7 linked regions of the Homo sapiens genome follow. The protein of the gene in region 7 interacts with the protein of the main gene of each other region in a biochemical or structural test. Each region holds a gene or a part of one and is shown on either strand. Other genes may lie near its edges. The genes, in order: RSBN1, ADRA1D, ADGRA2, PRKD2, KIT, ABCC4 and SYNJ2BP.

The links.
Region 1: the proteins of SYNJ2BP (region 7) and RSBN1 interact in a test that uses a peptide from one of them, tested with the Homo sapiens proteins (one large-scale study listed by IntAct).
Region 2: the proteins of SYNJ2BP (region 7) and ADRA1D interact in a test that uses a peptide from one of them, tested with the Homo sapiens proteins (one large-scale study listed by IntAct).
Region 3: the proteins of SYNJ2BP (region 7) and ADGRA2 interact in a test that uses a peptide from one of them, tested with the Homo sapiens proteins (one large-scale study listed by IntAct).
Region 4: the proteins of SYNJ2BP (region 7) and PRKD2 interact in a test that uses a peptide from one of them, tested with the Homo sapiens proteins (one large-scale study listed by IntAct).
Region 5: the proteins of SYNJ2BP (region 7) and KIT interact in a test that uses a peptide from one of them, tested with the Homo sapiens proteins (one large-scale study listed by IntAct).
Region 6: the proteins of SYNJ2BP (region 7) and ABCC4 interact in a test that uses a peptide from one of them, tested with the Homo sapiens proteins (one large-scale study listed by IntAct).

Annotation. Positions count from the first base shown.
Region 1 is NC_000001.11:113,805,977-113,809,476, reverse strand, and holds part of RSBN1 (lysine-specific demethylase 9), read left to right. Parts: intron 1-3,500. UniProt on the Homo sapiens protein: Histone demethylase that specifically demethylates dimethylated 'Lys-20' of histone H4 (H4K20me2), thereby modulating chromosome architecture.
Region 2 is NC_000020.11:4,239,288-4,242,787, forward strand, and holds part of ADRA1D (alpha-1D adrenergic receptor), read right to left. Parts: intron 1-3,500. UniProt on the Homo sapiens protein: This alpha-adrenergic receptor mediates its effect through the influx of extracellular calcium.
Region 3 is NC_000008.11:37,831,383-37,834,882, reverse strand, and holds part of ADGRA2 (adhesion G protein-coupled receptor A2 precursor), read right to left. Parts: intron 3,461-3,500; coding exon 3,296-3,460; intron 1,874-3,295; coding exon 1,675-1,873; intron 1,196-1,674; coding exon 1,046-1,195; intron 917-1,045; coding exon 755-916; intron 1-754.
Region 4 is NC_000019.10:46,676,466-46,679,114, reverse strand, and holds part of PRKD2 (serine/threonine-protein kinase D2), read left to right. Parts: intron 1-451; coding exon 452-719; intron 720-1,658; exon of another isoform or gene 1,659-1,975; intron 1,976-2,649.
Region 5 is NC_000004.12:54,730,957-54,734,456, forward strand, and holds part of KIT (mast/stem cell growth factor receptor Kit isoform 1 precursor), read left to right. Parts: intron 1-371; coding exon 372-463; intron 464-914; coding exon 915-1,042; intron 1,043-2,113; coding exon 2,114-2,236; intron 2,237-3,500. UniProt on the Homo sapiens protein: Tyrosine-protein kinase that acts as a cell-surface receptor for the cytokine KITLG/SCF and plays an essential role in the regulation of cell survival and proliferation, hematopoiesis, stem cell maintenance, gametogenesis, mast cell development, migration and function, and in melanogenesis.
Region 6 is NC_000013.11:95,291,452-95,294,951, forward strand, and holds part of ABCC4 (ATP-binding cassette sub-family C member 4), read right to left. Parts: intron 1-3,500. UniProt on the Homo sapiens protein: ATP-dependent transporter of the ATP-binding cassette (ABC) family that actively extrudes physiological compounds and xenobiotics from cells.
Region 7 is NC_000014.9:70,389,591-70,393,090, forward strand, and holds part of SYNJ2BP (synaptojanin-2-binding protein), read right to left. Parts: intron 1-3,500. UniProt on the Homo sapiens protein: Regulates endocytosis of activin type 2 receptor kinases through the Ral/RALBP1-dependent pathway and may be involved in suppression of activin-induced signal transduction.

The sequences.
Region 1 (3,500 bases), on a different chromosome or scaffold from region 7:
ACATAGTTTGACTGATATCTTTTTTGTCCTCTGAACATCTTTATTGTTACAGTGGTATGCAGGAGGCATGCCTCTGGTATTAATCTGAGTTTAAATCATGGCTCTAACACTTACTGTGTGAGCCTGAACAAATTGCTTTACCCTCTCTCAACTGCACTTTTCCTGTCTATAAAATGGGGTTGTGGTATTTCATTTATAAGGAACTTGTGTGGATTAAATAGGGCATTGTGTGAAAGTACTTACAGCAGTGCCTGGCTCATTGTAGGCACTTACTTAAAACCGGCCTTTATTATTTTATTATGCATGGTCCCTAAAACAACTCTAAGATTAATAAGGAGAGTGGGCAGATTCTTGTTACTTACAAAGCTATGTCCTTCCTTCGCTTATCCTCAGATTTTTGGAAACTATTTTAACTGTTTTTTTTTTTTAGATAATTAATGATTCACAGGAAATTGCAAACATAGTCAAGTCCTTACCTTTTACCAGTTTCCCTCAGTGGCTACATCTTACATAACTATTGTATAATATCAACACCAGGAAATTGACATTGGTACAATGTATATGTAGTTATATGCTATTTTATCATATGTAGATTAGTGTAACCACCACTACAATCAAGATACAGAACTGTTCCACCACCACAAACCCTTTACAGCCTTAGGCACTCCCTCTGTCTCTCTACTGTCCCTGTCCTCTGGCAGCCACTAACCTGTTTTGTCATTTTGAGACTATTATATAAGTTGAATCATACAGTATGTGATCTTTGGAGATTGCCCTTTTTCACTCAGTGTGATGTCCCTGAGATCCATCCCTCTTTTTCATTGCCGAATAGTGTTCCATGGTATGGATGTACCATGGTTCACCTATTGAATCATTCCCGTATAAGAAAGGACATTTTGATTATTTCTAGTTTTTGGCTATTATAGATAGAGCTTCTATGAAAATTGGTGTTCAGGTTTTTGTGTGCATGTAACTTTTCATTTCTTTGGTCGTATGGTAAATACAATTAGCCCTCTGTATCCATGGGTTCCACATCAATGGATTCAGCCAACCTGGGATTGAAAATATTTTCAAAAAAACATTGTCTGTACTGGACTTGTGCAGACTTTTTTTTTCTTGTCACTGTTCCCTAAACAATACAGTATAACAATTATTTATATAGCATGTACATTGTATTAGGTATAAATAATCTGGAGATGATTTAAAATATAGGGGAGGATGTGCATAGGTTATAAGCAATTATTATGCCATTTTATATGAAGGACTTGATCATCTTGGATTTTGTTGCCCTGGGAGGCTCTGGAACCAATCCTCCATGGATACCAAGGATGACTATATATATTTATTTTGTTTGTTTGTTTTTTAAGATACTGCCAAAGTATTTTCTGGAGTGTCGGTACCATTTTACATTCCTGTCAGCGGTGTAAGAGAAATCCATTTTCTCCACATTCTTGCCAGTATCTGGTATTGTCACTATTTTTATTTTAGCAATTTTAATAGACGTGTGGTGATACATCATCATGATCTTAATTTGCATTTCCCAAATGGCTAGTGATAATACACATCTTTTCATATCATCATTTGCTGTCTATATATCCTGGTCAGTAAAATGTCTCTTTATACCTTTTGCCTATTTTCTAATTGAATTTTGTGTGTGTGTGTGTGTGTGTGTGTGTATACATATACATATATATATATATATAATTTTTTTTTTTGAGACAGAATTTCACTCTTGTTGCCCAGGCTGGAGAGCAATGGTGCAATCTCGGCTCACTGCAACCTCTGCCTCCCGGGTTCAAGCGATTCTCCTGCCTCAGCCTCCCGAATCGCTGGGATTACAGGTGCCTGCCACCACACCCAGCTACTTTTTTATATTTTTAGTAGAGACGGGGTTTCACTGTGTTGGCCAGGCTGTTCTCGAACTCCTGACCTCAGGTGATCCACCCGCCTCAGCCTCCCAAAGTGCTGGGATTTCAGGCGTGAGCCACTGCGCCCGGCCCTTGAATTGTATATTTTTTATTACTGGGTTTTGATAATTTTTTGTAGATCACAGGTGCAGCTTCTTTGTATGGTTTGCACATATTTTCTCCCAATCTGTTGCTTGTCTTTCCATCCTTTTTGTTTGTTTGCTTGTTTTTATTTTGGTTGTTTTTTTTTTTTTTTGAGATGGATTCTCACTTTGTCACCCAGGCTGGAGTGTAGTAGCACGATCCTGGCTCACTGCAACCTCCACCTCTTGGGTTCAGGCGATTCTCCTATGTCAGCCTCCCGAGTAGCTGTGATTACAGGCATCTGCCACCATGCCCGGCTAATTTTTGTGTTTTTCAGTAGAGACGGGGTTTCGCCATATTGGTCAGGCTGGTCTTGAACTCCTGACCTCAGGTGATCCGCCCGCCTTGGTCTCCCAAAGTGCTGGGATTACAGGCATGAGCCACCACGCCCAGCCTGTTTGTTTTTGTTTTTTTGGGGAGGGTCTCACTCAGTTACCCAGGCTGCAGCACAGTGATGTGATCATGGCTCACTCTAGCCTCAACCTCTGGGGCTCAAGTGATCCTCCCACCTCAACCTCCTGAGTAGCTGAGACCACACGTGTGCACCACCACACCTGGCTAATGTTTTTTTTTTTTTTTTTTTTTTTGATAGAGGCAGGGTCTCTCTGTGTTGTCCAGGCTGGTCTCAAACTCCTGGGCTTAAGTGATCCTCCCGCCTTGGCCTACCAAAGTGTTGGGATTACAGACAGGAGCCACTGTGCCTGGTCCTTTCTACCTTCTCAGTGGGATACTTCACAGAGCAAAAATTTTAAATTTTGTTGATATCCAATTTACTAAGTTTTTTTTTTTCTTTAATGGATCATGTTTTTGGCATCATATCTAACATACCAAGTCCTAGATCCCAAAGATTTTCTCCTTTGTTTTCTTCTAAAAGTTTTATAATTTTAACTTTTGTATTTTAATCTGTCATCCATTTGAGTTAATTTTGTACAGGTGTGAGGTTTAGGTCGCCATTTTTTTTCTTCTTGCCTAAGGATATCCAGTTGCTCTAGCACCTTTTGTTGAAAAGATTAATCTTCCATTGAATTGCTTTTGCACTTTTTTCAAAAATCAGTACAACCTGTAATGTAACAATGATTTTTTTTTTTTTTTTGAGACAGAGTCTCGCTCTGTGCCAGGCTGGAGTGCAGTGGTGTGATCTCAGCTCAGTGCAACCTCCACCTCCTGGGTTCATGGGAATCTTATGCCTCAGCCTCCTGAGTAGCTGGGATTACAGGCGCCCACCACCACACCCAGCTAATTTTGTATTTTTAGTAGAGATGGGGTTTCACCATGTTGGCCAGACTGGTCTCAAACTCCTGACCTCAGGTGATGTGCCTCCCACAAGTGCTGGGATTACAGGCATGAGCCACTGTGCCTGGCCTAACAATGGTTTTTACAATTTAAAATAGTTGGAACGACCTTGTAGCGCATGGAAATCATACGAAATTTAAACTGTGTCCAGAAATA
Region 2 (3,500 bases), on a different chromosome or scaffold from region 7:
CTCAGATGTTTGGGACAAACATATCAGCAGGAGCTGGGCAGAGGACAAGATCTTCAGGGGAGGGGAAGGAGGAATATATGTCCAAGGACAGAAGTCCCCATCAGTGTTGTGTTTTTCTTCTACTGAAAATAAAATGTACTTCCTAGATCTGTCCATTGAATCAGTGACCAACTCAGTATCAATGAACAGCTCAGTCATCTTCCATTGAAACAGACTAGGGCTCTTTAGGGAAATGGCTAATTCCAGGTCTAGGGCAGAAAAAATGCAAGCTGAGCCTGAAGCATCTTATCAGATCAGAAAGCAAAGAAGAGCTCAAGATGCTCCAGGTTCTGCCAAAGATCTCAGAAGCCAACTGGAAGGAGTACCCACTGGCCAAGCCCAAAACAATGATGTCTGTGATGTGTTGGAACAGCAAGGATGTCTAAAAATAATGACATTACCATGGTACTCAAACAGCCTCAGTGGTCACGTCTGGAAAGAATGCTAGAGAACTGACTCTTCCTCTGATAAATAAAGAGGAATATTGAACATCTTCCCTGCCTTTGCTGTACAGATTCTATTTAACCAAACAGCTAGTGGTGAAATCATTTTAGAATGCTAGTGAATAAATGAAGGAGGTATGATAGGATTAGAATATCCCCACTTCAAGCCCCAGTGATATAATGGGTCCAGGCCATGGTCAATGGCTGCCAAAACCAGCAGGTGAAAGGCCGATGGGTCACTTTGTAATGGACAGAGCAGGCTGACAGCACATGAATTCTGGTCAATCTTGACACCACAGAAAAGAAGAATTCTTTCCAGGCCAAATCTGCACCCAGGAAGTACAGGGAACAGAGGGACACATTAAATGGCACTGTGGAGATGCAAACTCCAAACTACAGGATACACCTGGGGACAATCTGGTGTCTTCACTAAATAAATGGAAAGAAAAAAAAGCAGTGGAGGCTTACCGAGTAAAGAAACCTAATAGGCAAATCGACCATATGCAACGTGTGCTCCTTCTGTGGATTCTGCTTCAAACAAACCAACCAAAAATTTACGAGGCAGCCAGCAACATTTCAACACTAAGTAGATATTTGATGATATTAAATGATTTTATGTGTTATAATGGATTGTGGGCTTTTTTTTTTTTTTTTTACAGTTATTATCTTCTAGAACTATATATTGAAGGATTTACAGATGAAGGGATACTGTATCTGGATGTTCTTCAAAATAATCTACAGTGGCCGGGTGCAGTGGTTCATGCCTGTAATCCCAGCACTTTGGGAGGCCGAGGTGGGTGGATCACCTGAGGTCAGGAGTTTGATATCAGCCTGACCAACATGGTGAAACCCCGTCTCTACTAAAAATACAAAAATTAGCTGGGCATGGTGGTGCACACCTATAATCCCAGCTTCTTGGGAGGTTGAGGCACGAGAATCACTTGAACCCGGGAGGTGGAGGTTGCGGTAAGCTGAGATTGCGCCACTGCACTCCAGACTGGGAGACAGAGAGACTCCATCTCAAAAAACAAACAAACAAAAATCCAAAAGAATCTACAGTGATGGGACAGTGGGTGAGGATGGAAAGAATCTAGGTTAGCTTTGGGGTGAAGCTGGGTCACAGGTACACAGGGGTTCATTATACTAACAGGGTTCTCTCTATCAATGTATGTGTTTGAAACTTTCCATGTTAAAAACATGAAAAAAACCCAACCCTAGCTCATTGCTTATTCATAGTAATTACTCAATAAATATTAACTGTCCTGTTAAAGATTTTTTTTTTAGGCCACAAAAATGGGGACTCACCCCCAACCCACAACAAGTAAAGAGAGTTGACTTTAAATAGAGGGCTGTTATGCTAAGCGAAATAAGCCAGTCACAGAAGGAGAAATACTGCATGATTCCACTTACATGGGGGTCTCTAAAATACTCAAATGCGTAGACTCAAAGAGTGGGATGGTGGTTTCCAGGGAGAAAGGGCGCTAGGAAATTGGGAATTGCTAATCAATGGGCATAAAGTTTCAGTTTGGCAAGATAGATGAGTTCTAGGGGTCTGATGTGCAACAGTATCACATGATATGTATCCATAGTTAATGATATGTAGTTAATGATATGATATTTACACTTAAAAGTGTGTTAAGAGGGTAGAGCTCATGCTATATGCTCTTGCCACAATAAAAGAAAATTAAAATAATAAATAAATGGAGGGCTGTGCTTTGCCACCCAGACCCTTGGTGTGGCAGGATGGGAATAGAACATGGGTTCTACCGTTTCCTTCTTCTGCACACATTTACTGAGCACCTATTATGTTCCAGGTGCCACAAAGCACAGGTAGGAGATGTAATGCCAGCCCTTTCTTCAGGCTTTTGGGCCGGGAGACAATGATGCCATTACTGAAGACCTAGCACAAAGCATCCCTTGCCTCTCCCCTTCATCCACAGACCCCTGCACAACCTCAGGCAGCCTGTGGAGATGAGTCCTTTAGCACCTGGCCGACTCTCAGACATATGCATAATCCACTCTCCGCACGGGGCCACCAAAGTATGCCTTCCAGCCTGGACACCAATTACTAAGCAGGGCTCACAGCCTCCCCCCTGCCTCCTCCTGCCTTCTCTCTCACTGTAACAAAGGCATAACATGTAGACAGTCAAATTTAGAAAGCGTGTGTATCTGAAGCACACAGCACAGCCTGATGGCTCTGCATATGCATGCACCAATGTCATCACTACCCAGGTCAAGGTATGGAACTGTCCCAGCCCTTCAGAAAGTTTTCTAGCATTCTCTTCCAGTTAGTACACTCACTGCACACACACAGATGGGTAACCGCTATCCTGGATTTTATCACCATTGATAAGTTTCCCCTGTTTTTGAACTTCATCTACACAGAATCAAAAGGTGTGTACACCTTGAGTTTCAGACCTGGCTTATTTTGCGCAGTATAACATCCATGAAATTCATCCATGTGTGCATCAGTAGTTTGCTATTTTTCCTTGTACCGTGGTCCAGTCTATGGATACATGGTTTATTTATCCATTCTCCTGCAGATGGCATCTGGCCTCATCTCTTGACCCCTCTTCTCATAGGCTACACGTTTTACGTCTCCCAAACCACAGAGCAACCCAGCAATACTGCTACTCCTGTGCCTACGTGTGTGTAGTTCCCTTTGCCCTCACACTTCATGATGCATATCTGAATATTGACAGTTACAGTGCATCGTGATAAAAGTACATGCAGAGTGTTTCAGAAGCACATGGGACATCTAAGTCTGGGGGTGGTCAGCGACACAGGCACTATCACAGAGCACAGACTCACAAGATAGGAGAGAGGCTCAGGTGTGGCTCACAGATGGCTGGAGTGGGACATTGGCTGGGCTGTCCTGGGACTTCTGATATCAGAGCCTCTGCCCAGCTTGTATGCCTTGAGGTGCATTTGAGGGGGGCCCTGGGCTCTGAGTCTCCGGGCTGCTTTGAGTGGATGGCATTTGGAAGGTGGAGGTCAGTGATGCTCGGTGATCTGCCC
Region 3 (3,500 bases), on a different chromosome or scaffold from region 7:
TCTAATTAAAAACTTTTTTTTAGAGATGGGGTTTCACCATGTTGCCCAGGCTAGTCTCAAATTCCAGGCCTCAAGTGATCCTCCCACCTTGGCCTCCCGAGTAGCTGGGACCACAGGCGCATGCCAACACTCCTGGGTAATTTTTGTATTTTTTGTGGAGACCAGGTCTCTCTGTTGCCCAGGCTGGTCTCCAACTCCTGGCCTTGGGAGATCCTCCTGTATCGGCCTCCCAACGTGCTGGGATTACAGGCTTCTTGCTCACCTCTTAAGTATGCCAGTTCTGTTGCCCGACTCAGCTGTAGAGCAGGCTCCATGTCTCACCCCTTTGCATCGCCCCAAGGGCCTAGCACAATATCTTGAACATACACGATGCTGTACTGTGGTTGTTATCAGATTGGAGCACTCACCTTCTCTCAGGGAACTTCCATTACTCTTCACTCAATCCCGAGTGCTGTCTGCCCTGCCACCAAGCCTTCCTCCCATCCCTTCTACTCCTTTCACTCTTCCTCCTGCTTATTCCCATCAGGCTGGCCCTTTGGCTCAGTTCCCCACCACGGAGTCTGGCATCACTTCTCCAGGGTCACCGGCCACCTCTCCTTAGCACTGCCCCTGACAACTTGGAAGTGAACCCCATGGCTCAGAACTTTGTCACGTCTGCTGCTCTTGCTAGCTGGGGCACGGCAGGTGCACGCCTGAGAGGGAGCGCCTCCCTCCTCTGCATGCCAGGGCCACCCCCTCTGCTGACCCCCATTACCACTGAGATGTGCTGGGCATGGGGGCTGAGGGCGGCCCCCCCAATGCGCTCCAGGGCACCCACGATGCGGCTGCAGGCCTTGTCCTCGCGCTGGGCCAGCCACAGCAGGTGCTCGTCCACCAGCATCAGGTTGCTGGCCATGTCCACCATCACCTCTACCAGCTGGGGGGACAGGGAAGTTGCTGAGGGCAGGGGCGGGGTTTGGGACCCAGGAGCTGGAGTGAGAGAGAGGCTTGAGCAAATGAGGGATGGGGGCGTTTTCCGAGCTCCTGAGTTCCAGCTGAGTCTCACCTCTTTGATCTGGTCGACATAACCCAAAAATTTCTGGATCATCTGAGCCACATAGACTACATCCATCATGTCTGAAAAGCTAGCGGCCTCGGCTGTGTACACGCGCAGCTGGTGAGCCAGGGTCAGCGCATTGGAGGCATTGATGGGCATCTGGGGATTGGGGGAAGAGAGAGGATCATCTCGCCTGTTCCTTCTGCCCCCGAACTGCCCCTGGGGACCCTCTGCTCTGTGCCAGTGCTCAGTGCCTGGGGACAGGAGTCCAGCCTACCTTCTGGGTCTCATCAAGCTAGGAGGGCAGAGGAGGCTGAGACCATCACAGCCCAAGGCCACCACTGCCAGCACCCCTGGTGTAAGGACAGTGGGACTCTGCTTTTGGCGTTGGTGAGTAAAGGGGCGTGAGGTGGCCAGATGGGGACAGAGGACTGGTGCCCTTCCCCACTGTGGCCTCAGTGGGTCTGAATAGCAGAGGGCGGCTGGAGGAGAGGAGCCGGCTCCTGGCTCTGCACAGGCAGGAACAGGAGGCACAGCCCAGCGGCCCGGAGATAGGGCTCCCCTTGCCCGTTAGGTTGGCTTCTCCCTTCCCTGTGCCCCCGAAGCAGAGCTGGTGGGGTGCCCTAGCCTCTCCTCACCAGCACGAAGGTGTACAGCACCCTGGTGATGTCGTTGGTGTAGAGACAGTGGGAGTAGTCCCCTGGCTCCCAGCGGCCGGCACGGTCACACCGGCGGGAGGCTCGGGTGCCCGGGGCACCCCCGCCCAGGGGCACTGAGGTGAAGGGATACTGCAGGCAGGACTGGTAGGCTGTGATGCCAGCCAGAGTTCGGGGCCACCTGGGGGGAGAGGCAGGAAGTTGCCGATGAACCGGGCTTCTCAGAACAACAGCCCTTCTCCCGACTTTAGAACGGTGAGGCCGGACTCCTTGGGGCCTTGGGGAGGGATCCAGGAGCGGGGTTCAGACCAGCCTTCCAGGGGTTCCCAAGTTCCACTCTCTTTGTTCTGACCGGGCTATCACAGGCGATAGGGGGCTGGACTTCAGAGTTCTGAGTTTAAATTCAAGTTCTGCCACTTATTTGCTATGGCTTAAGGCAAGGTATTTATCCTTTCTCGGCCTCAGTATTCTCAGCTGTACAGTGGGGAGAATAATAGCTTCCCTGCATAACAGAGAGGGTCACTGGGATCTTAAAAGGTGATACTCTTTGTGGGTGAGCTTTTGCAAACTATGAATATAAGGAAGCAAATAAAAGCCTTTTTGTGGCCAGGCACAGTGCTTGAGCCCAGGGGTTTGAGACCAGCCTGGGCAACAAAGTGAGACCCTGTCTCTACAGAAGATAACACAATAAGCTAGGCATAGTGTCTGCGCCTGTAGTCCCAGCTCCTTGGGAGGCGGAGGTGGGAGGATTGCTTGAGCCCAGGAATTCGAGACTGCAGTGAGGTATGATTGTGCCACTGCACTGGAGCCTGGATGAAAGAGCAAGACCCTGTCTAAAAAAAAGTCGCAGTGGCTCAAGCCTGTAATCCTGGCACTTCGGGAGGCCAAGGCGGGTGGATCACTTGAGGCCAGGAGTTCGAGACCAGCCTGGCCAACATGGTGAAACCCTATCTCTACTGAAAATACAAAAATTAGCTGGGCATGGTGGCACAGGCCAGCTACCGGGGAGGCTGAGGCAACAAGATCATGCCATTGCACTCCAGAGTGAGACTCTCTCTCAAAAAAAAAAAAGTCTTTTTCTGCAGCACATCTCAGATGGTAATTTTGTTTGTTTGTTTGTTTTTGAGATGGAGTCTTGCTCTTGTCTCCTAGGCTGAGGCTGGAGTGCAATGGTGTGATCTTGGCTCACTGCAACCTCCGCCTCCTGGGTTCAAGCGATTCTCCTGCCTCAGCCTCCTGAGTAGTTGGGATTACAGGCACGCACCACCATGCCTGGCTGATTTTTGTGCTTTTTGGTAGAGATGGGGTTTTGCCATGTTGGCCAGGCTGATCTCCTGACCTCAGATGATCAGCCTGCCTTGGCCTTCCAAAGTGCTGGGATTGTAGGCGTGAGCCACTGCACCCGGCCTCAGATGGTAAGTTTATACATAAAGTCTATCTATTCGATAGCAAGGCTTCAGGCTGAATGACAAAAGGAAGTGTCTTCTCCATCTTTAGGACCCAACAGAGACAGCGGATGGGGAAACTCTGGCCACCTGTGATGTCAGGTGCAAGGGTGGGGTTGGGGGCTGGGCAGCCCTCTACAGGGTGGAGTGGGCCAAACCTGAAGTCCCCGCGGTTGTTGGCAACACGCTCGGCGGGGCAGTAGGAGGCAGAGGTCTCCAGCACCACGATCTCCACCTTCTTGCTGGCGTTGCCTTGGGCCATGGACACGGTGCACTCCCACTCGCCTGAGGCCCACACGCCGATGTGAGACAGCGTCAGCTCACTGCGGGTGGCAGGTGGAGCTGGCTCGTGAGTCACCCTTG
Region 4 (2,649 bases), on a different chromosome or scaffold from region 7:
TTCCTTGGCCTCCCAAAGTGCTGAGATTGCAGGCATGAGCCACCACGCCCCAATCATGTATATTTTGAGGCTATTAAAAAAAATCTGCATTATTCAAAAGAGGAAACAGCGACCCATTGGAGGTGGCAGAGGTATAGCAGCAGCTAGCATTTATTGTGCACCAACTGAATGCCAAATATTGTCCTGTGGGCTTTGGATGGTTTAATTCACTAACCATCATGGCAGTCCTCTGAGATAGGTGCTCTTCTGCTCTTCTTCCTATAGATGGGGAAACTGAGGCACAGAGGGGGGAAGTCACCTGCCCAGGGTTGCTCAGCTAGTGAGCCAAGGAGCCTGGATTCAAACCAGCATCCAGCTTTCTCTGGAATACCATGGAGGGTGGTGTGGTGGGGATGCTGGGGTGGGTGCGGCTCCATCACCTGGTGGAGCCTCCATCCCTTGCCCTCTGCAGGTGAAGCTGTGTGACTTTGGCTTTGCTCGCATCATCGGCGAGAAGTCGTTCCGCCGCTCAGTGGTGGGCACGCCGGCCTACCTGGCACCCGAGGTGCTGCTCAACCAGGGCTACAACCGCTCGCTGGACATGTGGTCAGTGGGCGTGATCATGTACGTCAGCCTCAGCGGCACCTTCCCTTTCAACGAGGATGAGGACATCAATGACCAGATCCAGAACGCCGCCTTCATGTACCCGGCCAGCCCCTGGAGCCACATCTCAGCTGGAGGTGCCTGGGGCCCGCCTACCCCATGGGCGGGTGGGTTGTGGGGTGGGGCTGGAGAAGTGGGCGGAGCCATGAGAGGGGGGTGGACCCGGAAACAGCCTGGCACCTTGGGGGTGGAGCCCAGTGCTGGGGCGGGCCTACTGGAGGGATGTGGCTACAGGAGGAGCCGTCCTGTAAAAGATGGGCTGGGACTCAGGCCTAGACTAGGTTACTTGGGCTGGAAACCAAGTGCCCCAGAAGCGCTGAGGACACTTGGAACCTTAGGGGGGCTGAGTGAGACTTGGCTTGTCTAGGGTGGGACCAGGAAAGGGACTGGACTTGAGGGTACCAAAGGGCTGCGGTGACCAGGAGAAGGGGCTGAGCCTCCCAAGGCATTGGCTGGGACCTGGAGCCTTTGGGTTTACGACCCCAAAAGGGTCAGCCTTGCAAAAAGGAGGCACCGGTGGGTAGGGTTGAGAAACAAGGGCATGGCTACTTTGCTGTGTACTGGGGCCGTGACTTGGGTGAAGATGGGCCTGAAGCCTGGGGTCGGTTCAGTGACCAAGGGAGCCAGTCTAGGGACGTGGCCGTGGAGGGTTTCCGAAGAGGTCCAGGAACAGGGCTGACCCTGAGTCCTGGAAGCTGGGAGTGGATGGGAGTGGGGAGGAGAAGGGAGCCAGGACTGAGGCAGACATTGCACTCTGCATTCTGGGGCTTTGGTGTTGTGGCTGGGCCTGATGAAGTGGCACCGGGCCTGGTGACTTGAACCTACTTGGGAATGGGTCTGTAACTTTCCCTGCTTGGAAAAGTTAAGTCCTAAGGCCTGGAGCTTTGAGGCTGGGTGTGGGATGGCATGTTTAGAGGGCCAGAGGCAGGGCTAAGATACTGGGGTGTGTCAGAAGCCAGGAGAACAAGGGACCTGTGTTGGAGCCAGGGAGCTCAGGAAGACAGATGGAGTATGGGAAGGGGGGGGATCATTCATTCATTTATTTATAACCATTTATTCAACAAGTACATTCATGTATTTGTAACCATTGATTCAACATGTTGAGTGCCCACGATGTGCCAGGCATTGACTGTTCCAGCTCTGGGAATACTGTGATGACTTGGACAGAAGGGGTCAGGTGCAGGGTAGCTCATTGAGTGGTCCGCGAAGGGTGGAAAGGGGAAGGGTCCTCTCTGGAGGGTGCGGCTTCATGGAGCAGGTGGAGCAGGGTGACACGGAGGTTGCTCGGTGCAGGACAAGACAAGGTCTTGGTGGTGGTCTAAGAGCATGGGCCCTAAGCAGTGAGAATGTGGATTGACTTGAGTCCTGGAGTAATATTGGGGGTGCTCAACACTGGCTTTTTTTTTTTTTTTGAGGTGGGGTCTCGCTCTTTCACCCACGCTGGAGTGCAGTGGCGTGATCTCGGCTCACTGCAACCTCCACCTCTTGGGTTCAAGGGATTCTCCTGCCTCAGCCTCCCGAGTAACTGGGATTACAGGCACACAGCACCATGCCTGGCTCATGTTTTATATTTTTAGTAGAGACAGGGTTTCGCCATGTTAGCCAGGCTGGTCTTGAACTCCTGACCTCAAGTTATTTGCCCGCTTCAGCCTCCCAAAGTGCTGGGATTGCAGGCATAAGCCATCACACCCCGCCAGCATTGTCTTTTGAGACCCACTCAGAAGTCCCTCAGTAAAAGTGCATCGAGTGTGCACAAGTGAATTTAAGTGTGGTTGCACCTGTGTGAGGATCACAGAATCCTGTGGGTGTTGACGGGAGCAGGGTGCCTGTGTGCACCAGGCCTCTCCTCGGATGGGTTCATACAGTGAAGCCTTGTCCTTCATGGCTTCCCATCAAGGAGAGAGCCTCGGATGAGTGCTGGCTTGTCTTGAAGCTTGACATTCGCTAGTCCTCTTTTTCACAATGAACAGGCCTATCTCTGAGCCTTCTGCAGGCAATGGTGACTAA
Region 5 (3,500 bases), on a different chromosome or scaffold from region 7:
TTGTCTTTCTTTCATCTTGTCTCCTGGGGCTCATTTAGAGAGTTTGAGGTAATACGGGATACCATATTTGGCTCTCTGTCTCCCATTAAATTCATTGTGTCAAGAGACGGGAAATTTCTAACCTGAGTCCTCTATATGATTATACACAAAAAGGACACCTAGTTTCTGGGCATGGACCCCAATATCGATTATTAAAAACTCATTTCTTACAGAACAGGATTTTCAAACTCTTTATTCAAACTTTACATGACTTTCCTCAAATTGGTCCAGTCTATTATGTAGCAAAGGGGATGAGGAGGTAGAGCATGACCCATGAGTGCCCTTCTACATGTCCCACTTGATTCAGTCATGACTTGTTTCATCTCTCCCAGCAGCGATAGTACTAATGAGTACATGGACATGAAACCTGGAGTTTCTTATGTTGTCCCAACCAAGGCCGACAAAAGGAGATCTGTGAGAATAGGTGAGTACCTACCTATCAAGCAACCAAGAGTAACTTTACAGAGAGTATGTATATCATGCTAATGTGGAATATAACATCATTCCCAGTAGCAATGATGCAGACCAGTTCTGCTTTATGGTAGCAGTGCCAATGGTCAATGGCAGTTAGGGTTGCAAGTGGGTGTTTGGGGTCAGAGCATATGTTTTTGTGCCTGAGTATCTTTCTATAGATATGGGATCTTTGCTTTAATTCGCCATCCCTCTCCTCTATGGATTTTGTAACCCAGCCTAGGATTGTTAAATATTAACTTTGTGATTCAGCATCTACCTTTCCTGGACACCAGGGAAGTGATCTGCCTGCAAGTTCACATTAGTTCATTCATTACCAGCCTTTGGTATGTCATTGCCACTGTCTTTTCCTTTCCTGACCTTTATGGTTGTAATTGCTAAGAAAAATCCTCTCTTCCTCACAGGCTCATACATAGAAAGAGATGTGACTCCCGCCATCATGGAGGATGACGAGTTGGCCCTAGACTTAGAAGACTTGCTGAGCTTTTCTTACCAGGTGGCAAAGGGCATGGCTTTCCTCGCCTCCAAGAATGTAAGTGGGAGTGATTCTCTAAAGAGTTTTGTGTTTTGTTTTTTTGATTTTTTTTTTTTTTTTTTTTTTTTTGAGAACAGAGCATTTTAGAGCCATAGTTAAAATGCAGAATGTCATTTTGAAGTGTGGTAACCAAAAGCAGAGGAAATTTAGTTTCTTCATGTTCCAACTGCTGTCTCTTTGGAATTCCTGTTCTAATTTATAAGCTGTAAAGTACAAGCCTGTCTAAATGAGTTTTTCTATGAATATTCTTTTATATGCAGTGAAATTCTTTTAAAACTTTTGGCTTTTAGGATATAGGATATGTTCCTAGAGAACAGAATCATTTTATCAGTAAAAGCAGAGGGCACCTCATAGTTACAAGGCTTGGGGTGAAGCATAGACTTGAGTTTTATTGAAGTTAGATCCAAATATTATATGTGTGGCTTATGAAGTGTCAGGAAATAAGGGGTCAGAGGGAGTAATAAACACTTGGGAGAAGGTTAGGAATGGAAAGAATGATGGAACCAAAACAAGGAGCATGGTCTGTGGAAGGGTGAAAGGAGTTCCTTAGGAAGTAAGATTAACCGAACAGAATGAGTTACCAGTCCTACCCTTAAATGTCATGGGTGACATTTCCCAACAATTACCAAACTAAGAAAGGATATAAGATGGCTGAAATAAAGACCTTCTTCCGTGTGTCCTTGGGAGATGTCAGATTGAATTTGCAAAGGCATATTAGGAACTCTGTGAAAGGACATTCAAAGAGATGCATGCAAAATGAATTTTCAGTTTAAACAATATGATATGACTATTTCTTATGTATTTCCCTATGAATGAAAGCAGTCCTGAGAAGAAAACAGCATTTATTAGAATTGCTTTTAAAAGAGATTATAATAATTAGACTCTTGATTATGTGAACATCATTCAAGGCGTACTTTTGATTTTTATTTTTGGTGTACTGAATACTTTAAAACAAAAGTATTGGATTTTTTATAATATAAGCAACACTATAGTATTAAAAAGTTAGTTTTCACTCTTTACAAGTTAAAATGAATTTAAATGGTTTTCTTTTCTCCTCCAACCTAATAGTGTATTCACAGAGACTTGGCAGCCAGAAATATCCTCCTTACTCATGGTCGGATCACAAAGATTTGTGATTTTGGTCTAGCCAGAGACATCAAGAATGATTCTAATTATGTGGTTAAAGGAAACGTGAGTACCCATTCTCTGCTTGACAGTCCTGCAAAGGATTTTTAGTTTCAACTTTCGATAAAAATTGTTTCCTGTGATTTTCATAATGTAAATCCTGTCTAGGGATATCACACATTTTAGCAGTCAAATTAAGTATACTTCAGCAAAATTTGCATGGTATGCTGAACATTACTACAACTAACATTCAATAATAGAAGTCCTAATTCTAATTGTGTAATTTTGGGGCATGTGAAGGAAACAGAAATAGCCTTAATTTTCATTATAGCCTGAGAATAGCAATGAACTTGATTTTGCTCAAGTGTAACAAATGTAGGTCATTGAAGGTCACAGCAGGAGAAATTTTGGGGGGATTGGCATGCCGTGTGAAAAATATTAAAATCTAAGATCATATTCAGAGTTAGCCATATAGAATGTTGGATCCTAGAATACACGGAGAGCTATTAAATAGGTTCATAAGTAATAATGGGTTTGTAGAACATAGCAAATGTTTTTCAAAGTGCTGTATTTCCTTGCCAATTTTTATTGAATCCTCAGAACAAACCCTTGTCCTATAATTGCAGCACCTTCCTATTTTAAAAGTTGGAGAAACTAAGGCATGGCATATTTTAGTGCTTTTTATCTGAGGTGACACAGGACAATAGAGGCTGAAACTAGAGCCTGTGATTTCCAGAGTGGCATCCCATCGCCATGGAAAACCATATTGCCCTTTATAATATTCTCTGCCTGTCTTCCTGGGCCCATTTCTGCAGTCCAGATTTATTCCTGGAGGTGGATTTTTGTGCCCCTTATGATAATGTAATGTTTTCCCCCCATCACTGTGGCGTCTCTATTGGTAGCCTGTACTCGATTTGGTTTTGTAAGAGTGTTTCTGTGTTTATCTCCTGGCCAAAGCATGAATTTCTGAAAAGGCTGCCCTGAAGCTAGATATTATCATCAGGAGTGATAATAAAAACAACTTCTCTTCATCCTGGTGCAATTTTGGAAGGAAGAATGATAAGTCGTTAATTATCCAGTCCTCTGAATATTGACCAAAGGGAGGAGGAAGAAGGTGGCCGCCTCCAGGCCCAGTCTTGATGAATTCTGCAATCTGTCTCCATTATTTCATGCCTGTGTAATTTTGTCAAGAGTTGTCCAATACCTCTGAATCTTTGTTTTTCTCCCCTTGGGAATAATAGTGATTCCTGACTCAGAAAGTTATGAGTTAATATATGTAAAGTGCTTATGACAGTGCCAGACATATTGTTACTATTCTTTATAGATGTCT
Region 6 (3,500 bases), on a different chromosome or scaffold from region 7:
ACACTTGTGGCCAAGTTAATCTAGCAACCACAGTGTTGATTAGTGGATCTGCCACAACCTAGAGGACATTCCTAGGACCCATCCTTTCTAGCATTCAGACTACGAAAGTGTTCCAAGAACTTTCAACAGCAACAATGAGCTGCTAAACGTTAGCATCTACAAAATGAATTTGCATAGGGATAGAAGAGCAGTTACATGGGGACAAGCCCTGCGGACTGTGAGGTCAATTGGCCATGTGTCCAATATAGCTCAACTGCATGTATCACTGATGATGCCCAAATTGACATAAACTTCCTGACCACATTGGCCAACATGATGAAACTCCATCTCTACTAAAATACAAGTATTAGCTGGGTGTGGTGGCGCGTGCCTGTAATCCCAGCTACTCGGGAGGCTGAGGCACGAGAATTGCTTGAACCAGAAGGTGGAGGTTGCAGTGAGCCAAGATCATACCACTGCACGCCAGCCTGGGCAACACAGTGAAACTCCATTTAAAGAAATAATAATAATAAGATAAACTTCTCCATGAGCCCCAAACTCATGACCAATTGAATGCCTATTCAACATCTCCACTTGAATGTGTAGCAGGCATCTCAAACTTAACAGGGTCAAAAATAAACTCCTGTCCAGGCACCATGGCGCATGCCTGTAATCCCAGCACTTTTGGAGGCTAGGGCGGGAGGATCACTTGAGCCCAGGAGTTCAATACCAGCCAGGGCAACATGGCAAAACTTCATCTCTACAAAAAATATAAAAAATTAGCTGGGCATGCTGGCACACACCTGTGGTCCCAGCTACTCAGGGGGCTGAGGTGGAAGGATGGCTTGAGCCCAGGAGGTGAAAGTTGCAGTGAACTGAGATCGCACCACTGCAATCCAGCCTGGGTGACAGAGTGACACCCTGTCTCAAACAAAGAAACAAAGATTTAATGTGGCCATGATAGCTGTCTTTGAATACTATGAGGCGAGCATATGAAGGGAGGTAGCCAACTTGCTCTGCGTGTTGACAAAAAAACAAAGGAGAGCGGCTCTGAACCTATTTTGGTTCTAGGAGCTGCTTGATTCACAGATCATTCTTTGCTTCATTAAATTCTGTAATGCTTTTCTTAGAAGTAAGTAAACACAAGTAGAAATTGCATGGAAAGAAAACTGTGGCTCAATACAACATAATTCTGGCATTCGAATCTAAAGTCATGAGAGTCACATAATGCATTTCCCCACTGCCCAGTATCTGGAAGGGATTCCTGTACTGAGTGTGGGCTAGAAGATCTCTTCCTTTCAACCCACTAATTCTATGACACTAAGGAAAAGGGGAAGATAGGAGCTAGCGCAGAGAAAAGAGCAGACAGGGACTAGGCCTGAAACAGACCAGCACGGAAGTGGTCATGGAACCCAGAAATGGAACAAGGAGCTACGTCGCAGGCCACAAAAGGGCTGTAAGTACTCATGAGTAAGGGGCTGGAAGTGGGAGAAGCAAAGTCTGAACATCTGCTGGGATGAAAGAGGGGAGGGCAACCTTGGGTGTAACAAACGCTACCGGCTGGCAGGGACGACATAGCGACTGAGGGGTGGTCATTCGCCACACGTCTCAGGCAACACTTTCTCCAACTGCAGTTCTGTGACCTGGACATCTCATCCCCTGCCAGGAACGATTTCCCACCTTCTCCATCCAAGCTCCAACAGGAAGGTAAACCCCTCCCCAGAGATCTCCATCTTGGCCAACATGGCAAAACCCTGTCTCTAACAACAACAAAAAAATTAGCCAGGCCTGGTGGTGCACATCTGTAATCCCAGCTACTTGGGAGGCTGCGGCAGGAGAATCGCTTGAGCCCGGGAGGCGGAGGTTGTAGTGAGCCGAGATCATGCCACTGCACTCCAGCCTGTGCGACAGAGACTCCATCTCAAAAAACAAAAACAAAAACAAAATCCCCACCCTCACACAGCTTTTCCATACTTCTACTCCAGCACACCCAACACGGGTTCAGGATGAACTCCTGCAGCAGCGACTGCTGGACACACGGACTATGTTTTTTTGAGATGGAGTCTCGCTCTGTTGCCCAGGCTGGAGTGCAGTGGCGTGATCTTGGCTCACTGCAACTTCTGCCTCCCGGGTTCAAGCAATTCTCCTGCCTCAGCCTCTCGAGTAGCTGGGACTACAGGTGCATGCCACCACGCCCAGCTAATTTTTGTATTTTTAGTAGAGACGGGGTTTCATTACGTTGGCCAGGCTGGTCTTGAACTCCTGACCTTGTGATCCACCTGCCTCGGCCTCCCAAAGTGCTGGGATTACAGGCATAAGCCACCGCACCCAGCCTGGACTACGTTTTCTTTTGCTTTTTTTTTTTTTTGAGACAGAGTCTCATTCTGTAGCCCAGGCTGGAGTGCAGTGGTGCAATCTTGGCTCACTGCAGCCTCCACCTCCTGGGTTAAAGCGATTCTCCTGCTCGGTCTCCCAAGTAGCTGGGATTACAGGCATGTGCCACCATGAAAGAAGGCAGGGTGCCTTCTTTCTTGCCAGGTGCAAATCCATTACAATAAAGTACCATTCCTGTTCTCAAAGAGCTCACACAATGAGGGAGGCAGCCACTGTATCGTGCAAATAATGCTAGCTATTAAACAAGCCCTGATTCTCAATGGCTTAATTCAAAATCACCAGCCGAGGCAGTGGATCACATGAAGTCAGGAGTTGGAGACCAGCCTGGCCAACACAGCAAAACCCCTTCTCTACTAAAAATACAAAATAAATAAATAAATAAAAAATTATCCGGGCGTGGTTTTGAGCTCCTGTAATCCCAGATACTTGGGAGGAGGCTAAGGCAAGAGAATCGCTTGAACCCGGGAGGCAGAGGTTGCAGTGAGCCGAGATCACGCCACTGCACTCTAGCCTGCAAGACAGAGATAGACTCCGTCTCAAAAAAGAAAACAAGAAACCAAGACCATGCCTATTGTCATGCTATAGTCCCCTTTTGGGCCATCTAGGGTGGTGAACAACACCATACATTTACTCCTAGCTGGACTTTCACCATCTTGCGGCTCGGCCTCCTCTCAGTCCTCCTCCTCTCCAGGAGGCCTCTTTATTCAGCTGGAGAGGCGTTGCATGGGGCTGGTTTTTGTGTTCCAGTCGTGGAAGCGAGACACCTTTTGCAACCACTTCCTATTGGCCAGGTCTCAGTTTCATGGTCACCTCTGACCACAAGGTTGGGGTAGAAAACATAGTCCAGGCTGGGCATGGCGGCTCACGCCTGTAATCCCAGCACTTTGGGAGGCCCAGGTGGGTGGATCACCCGAGGTCAGGAGTTCAAGACCAGCCTGGACAACATGTTGAAACCCCATCTCTCCTAAAAGTACAAAAAATTAGCTGAGCATGGTGGCGCACATCTGTAGTCCCAGCTATTTGGGAGGCTGAGACAGGAGAATCGCTTGAACTCCGGAGGCAGAGGTTGCAATGAGCCGAGATCACGCCACTGCACTCCAGCTTGGGCAACAAGAGTGAAACTCCAT
Region 7 (3,500 bases):
GGGGATTTTGGAATATTTGAATTAAACTTACCAGTTGAATATCCCTAATCCAAAAATCTGAAATCTGCAATGCTTCAATGAGCATTTCCTTTGAACGTCATGTTGGCCCTTAAAAAATTTTGGAGTTGGAAGCATTTCAAATTTCAGATTTTTGGATTTGGGCTACTCAATCTATACTTGGGCATAGTAATTGACAACTTTTATTCACTGTAGAAAAAACTGACTACTCGTTGATTAGCAACTCCCCAGTTCCTCTTCCCTAAGTCCTTGGAAACCACCATTCTAATATTTGTTTTTATGAGTTTAACTATTTTAAATGCATATAATTTTAGTTATGCAAGATGAATTAAGTTCTAGAGATCTGCTGTACAACATTGTGCCTACAGATAATACTATATCATACACTGAAAAATCTGTTCGGAGTAGATCTCACGTTAAGTGTTCCTACCACAGTAAAACAAAATATTAAAAGAAAGAAAAAAGAGAAGGAAAGAAAACTGAGTACCAAAGTGCTATTTCTATGGACCAATGACTAAGTGCTGGAAAGGATTTTACTGTACAGAAACCGTTGTTAGGAAAGGATTTTACCTATGCATAAAAAAATAAAAAGGAAAAAGGAACTTCTCTAGGGCTTTCTTAATGTCAGCTACTGGTAGAATTCAGGGGCACAGTGTAAGACAAAGGAGATAGTTTGGAAACAAACCAAAAATCTAGCGGTGCAATTGGAAGGAATAACCATAATCACCAGCCTACACTGTTCTCAATAGAAAAGATACTTAAAGAGACATATGCGGGGGGCCGGGCGCGGTGGCTCACGACTGTAATCCCAGCACTTTGGGAGGCCAAGGCAGGTGGATCACAAGGTCAGGAGATCGAGACCATCTTGGCTAACACAGTGAAACCCTGTCTCTACTAAAAATACAAAAAATCACCTGGGCATGGTGGCAGGCACCTGTAGTCCCAGCTACTCGGGAGGCTGAGGCAGGAGAATGGCGTGAACCCGGGAGGTGGAGTTTGCAGTGAGCTGAGATTGCATCACTGCACTCCAGCCTGGGCGACAGAGCAAGACTCCATCTCAAAAAAAAAAATAAAAAAGAGACATATGCGGGCTTTCTGAAAGTTCTCCCCATTGGTGGGAGAAAAGCTTACACCTGAAGCTCACAGTATTAACATAAGCACTAGCAAATCAATTTGTAATTTAAAGAAAAACATGACCAAACAAAGACACAACAGGAAACATTTAAGTTAAAAAGCATACCTTAGCCAGGCATGGTGGCTCACGCCTATAATCCCAGCACTTTGGGAGGCCAAGGTGGGTGGATCACTTGAGCTCAGGAGTTCGAGACCAGCCTGGGCAACGTGGTGAAACCCCGTCTCTACCAAAAATACAAAAAATTAGACACGCGTGGTGGCACATGACCAACATTGGGAGGCTGAGGTAGGAGGATCATTTGACCCTGGGAGGCAGAGGTTGCAGTGAGCCAAGATTGTGTCACTGCACTCCAGCCAGGGTGACAGAGTGAGACCCCCATCTCAAAAATAAAATAAAATACATAAAAAGCATACCTTGTGCATAAAATCTCTGCAGCTAGATAATAGAAAGAATTTATTCTCTAAAATAATATACATAATAGAAAGTGCTACTTCTGGAGTTTGTGACCTGGCTGGGCAACATAGCAAGACCCTATTCTCTAAAAAAATAAATAAGAAGGTGCTACTTCTGGAAGATGCTATTTTAACTTCCTTGAAGGGCTGGGTATTAAAAATAGTAGCTTAACTTACTAAATGATTTTCTTAGAGCACCCTCAATTTGTATCATAGAAGGTAGGAAGTATTGGAGAAGGTACAGAAATGTAAGATAAGGTGGAAAAGCAGATGGAACAAGATTATCGAAGGTTTTGAAATGACTTCAAAACTGTGACAGCTTTGAACAAGGGGGCCAAGGCCAACCCACCTCTCCCAAGCTGGAACAAACTATGTAGAAAAATCTTTTGATGAAATCCAACACCCTCATCAAATGCTACAGTTGCCTCTGGTGATCTTGGGAACAGGAAGCAAATGTTAAGCAGCTGAATGCAATGTAGTAGTTAGCAACAGAAAGGACTTTGCTACTGGTTATTCAAAGCTAACTGTAGAAAAAAAAGGAAGAGTAGAAGAAATTTTACCGAGATTTACCATAAACAAAAAAGAGCCGTCTACTACACACCCCATCGAAGTCATATTATATAGGTACATTTATAACCCGTTGCTACTTCTGTTGTAAATGAACCAAACTATTTAACATGAGAACTCCTGGACTGACCTGAAGCCCTTTGTTCAGCCAGAATATTTACAGAACTGGGTGTATCTATAAGCCAAAGCATTGCTGCAATAAAAGAGTCACCACAGCATTAAGTAGTGGCATGACCAACTGAACCTGGGCTGTACGGATACCTACATAATCCCCAGTTCACTTGCTCAGTAAAAATTACTGATTGAATCTTATGTGTAAGATGTTGTGTTATCATCTGAGGAAGACATAAAGTTAAACTGCACACTCCCTGCTTTGATCACAAACTGGAGTTTTTCCTTTTTCCTGTCCCTTTAAGATATTGCAGAAGCAAATCAACATTTACTATGTGTTAGGCATTACGTTATGCTCTGAGGAAGATATAAAGCTAACCTGGACAGTTCCTATTTTAACCACAAACCCAAATTTATCCTTTTCCCTGTCCCTTTTAGATATTGTAGAAGCAAATCAAAGTCAGAAGACTTGGTTCTAAGTTTATAACTTACCAGATATGTGGACTGAAGCAAGTCAGTTTACCTCTGATCCTCAGCTTCCTTTTCTACAAAAATAAGAATTATAAATTCTGCCCTGTCTACATCAATGGGTAAGTGTTAGGGGCCAATAACATAAAATACGAAAAAAAATCTTCATAAACTACATAGTAGTTGCTCTATTGGGATAAGGCGCTAGGAGTAGTTGTCAATAAACTAATGGCTGCTAAAGCTCCAAACTAGATAGTTTGACAGAGAAAGAATGAATAAATATACAGTAGAAATGCAAAATCTCCTAAAAAATGGGAAGACAGATTTTAAAATTCCACCCATCTATAAACAGGAACTCAAACTTATTAAGTACGTCTATGGCATGTGACCTAGAAATCCCCCTTAAGAGTAGTTTCTAGCAAGTGTGATATCTAAACTCTGCGGCAATCATCCAGCATATGGACCAACCAATTGAAACAGATGTCAGTTGGAAACCACCAGAAAGGGAAAGGCTATTCAATACGTATCTTGCTAATCATTGGCTATGGCCCAGAAAAATCTTGCATAAGTAGGGTGACCACATATCCCAAAAGCAATTGCCACAAAAGCCAAAATTGACAAATGGGATCAATTAAAGAGCTTTTGCTCAGCAAAAGAAACTATCATCAGAGTGGACAGGTAACCTACAAAATGGGAGAAAATTTTTGCAATCTATCCATCTGACAAAGGGCTAATATCCAGAATCTACA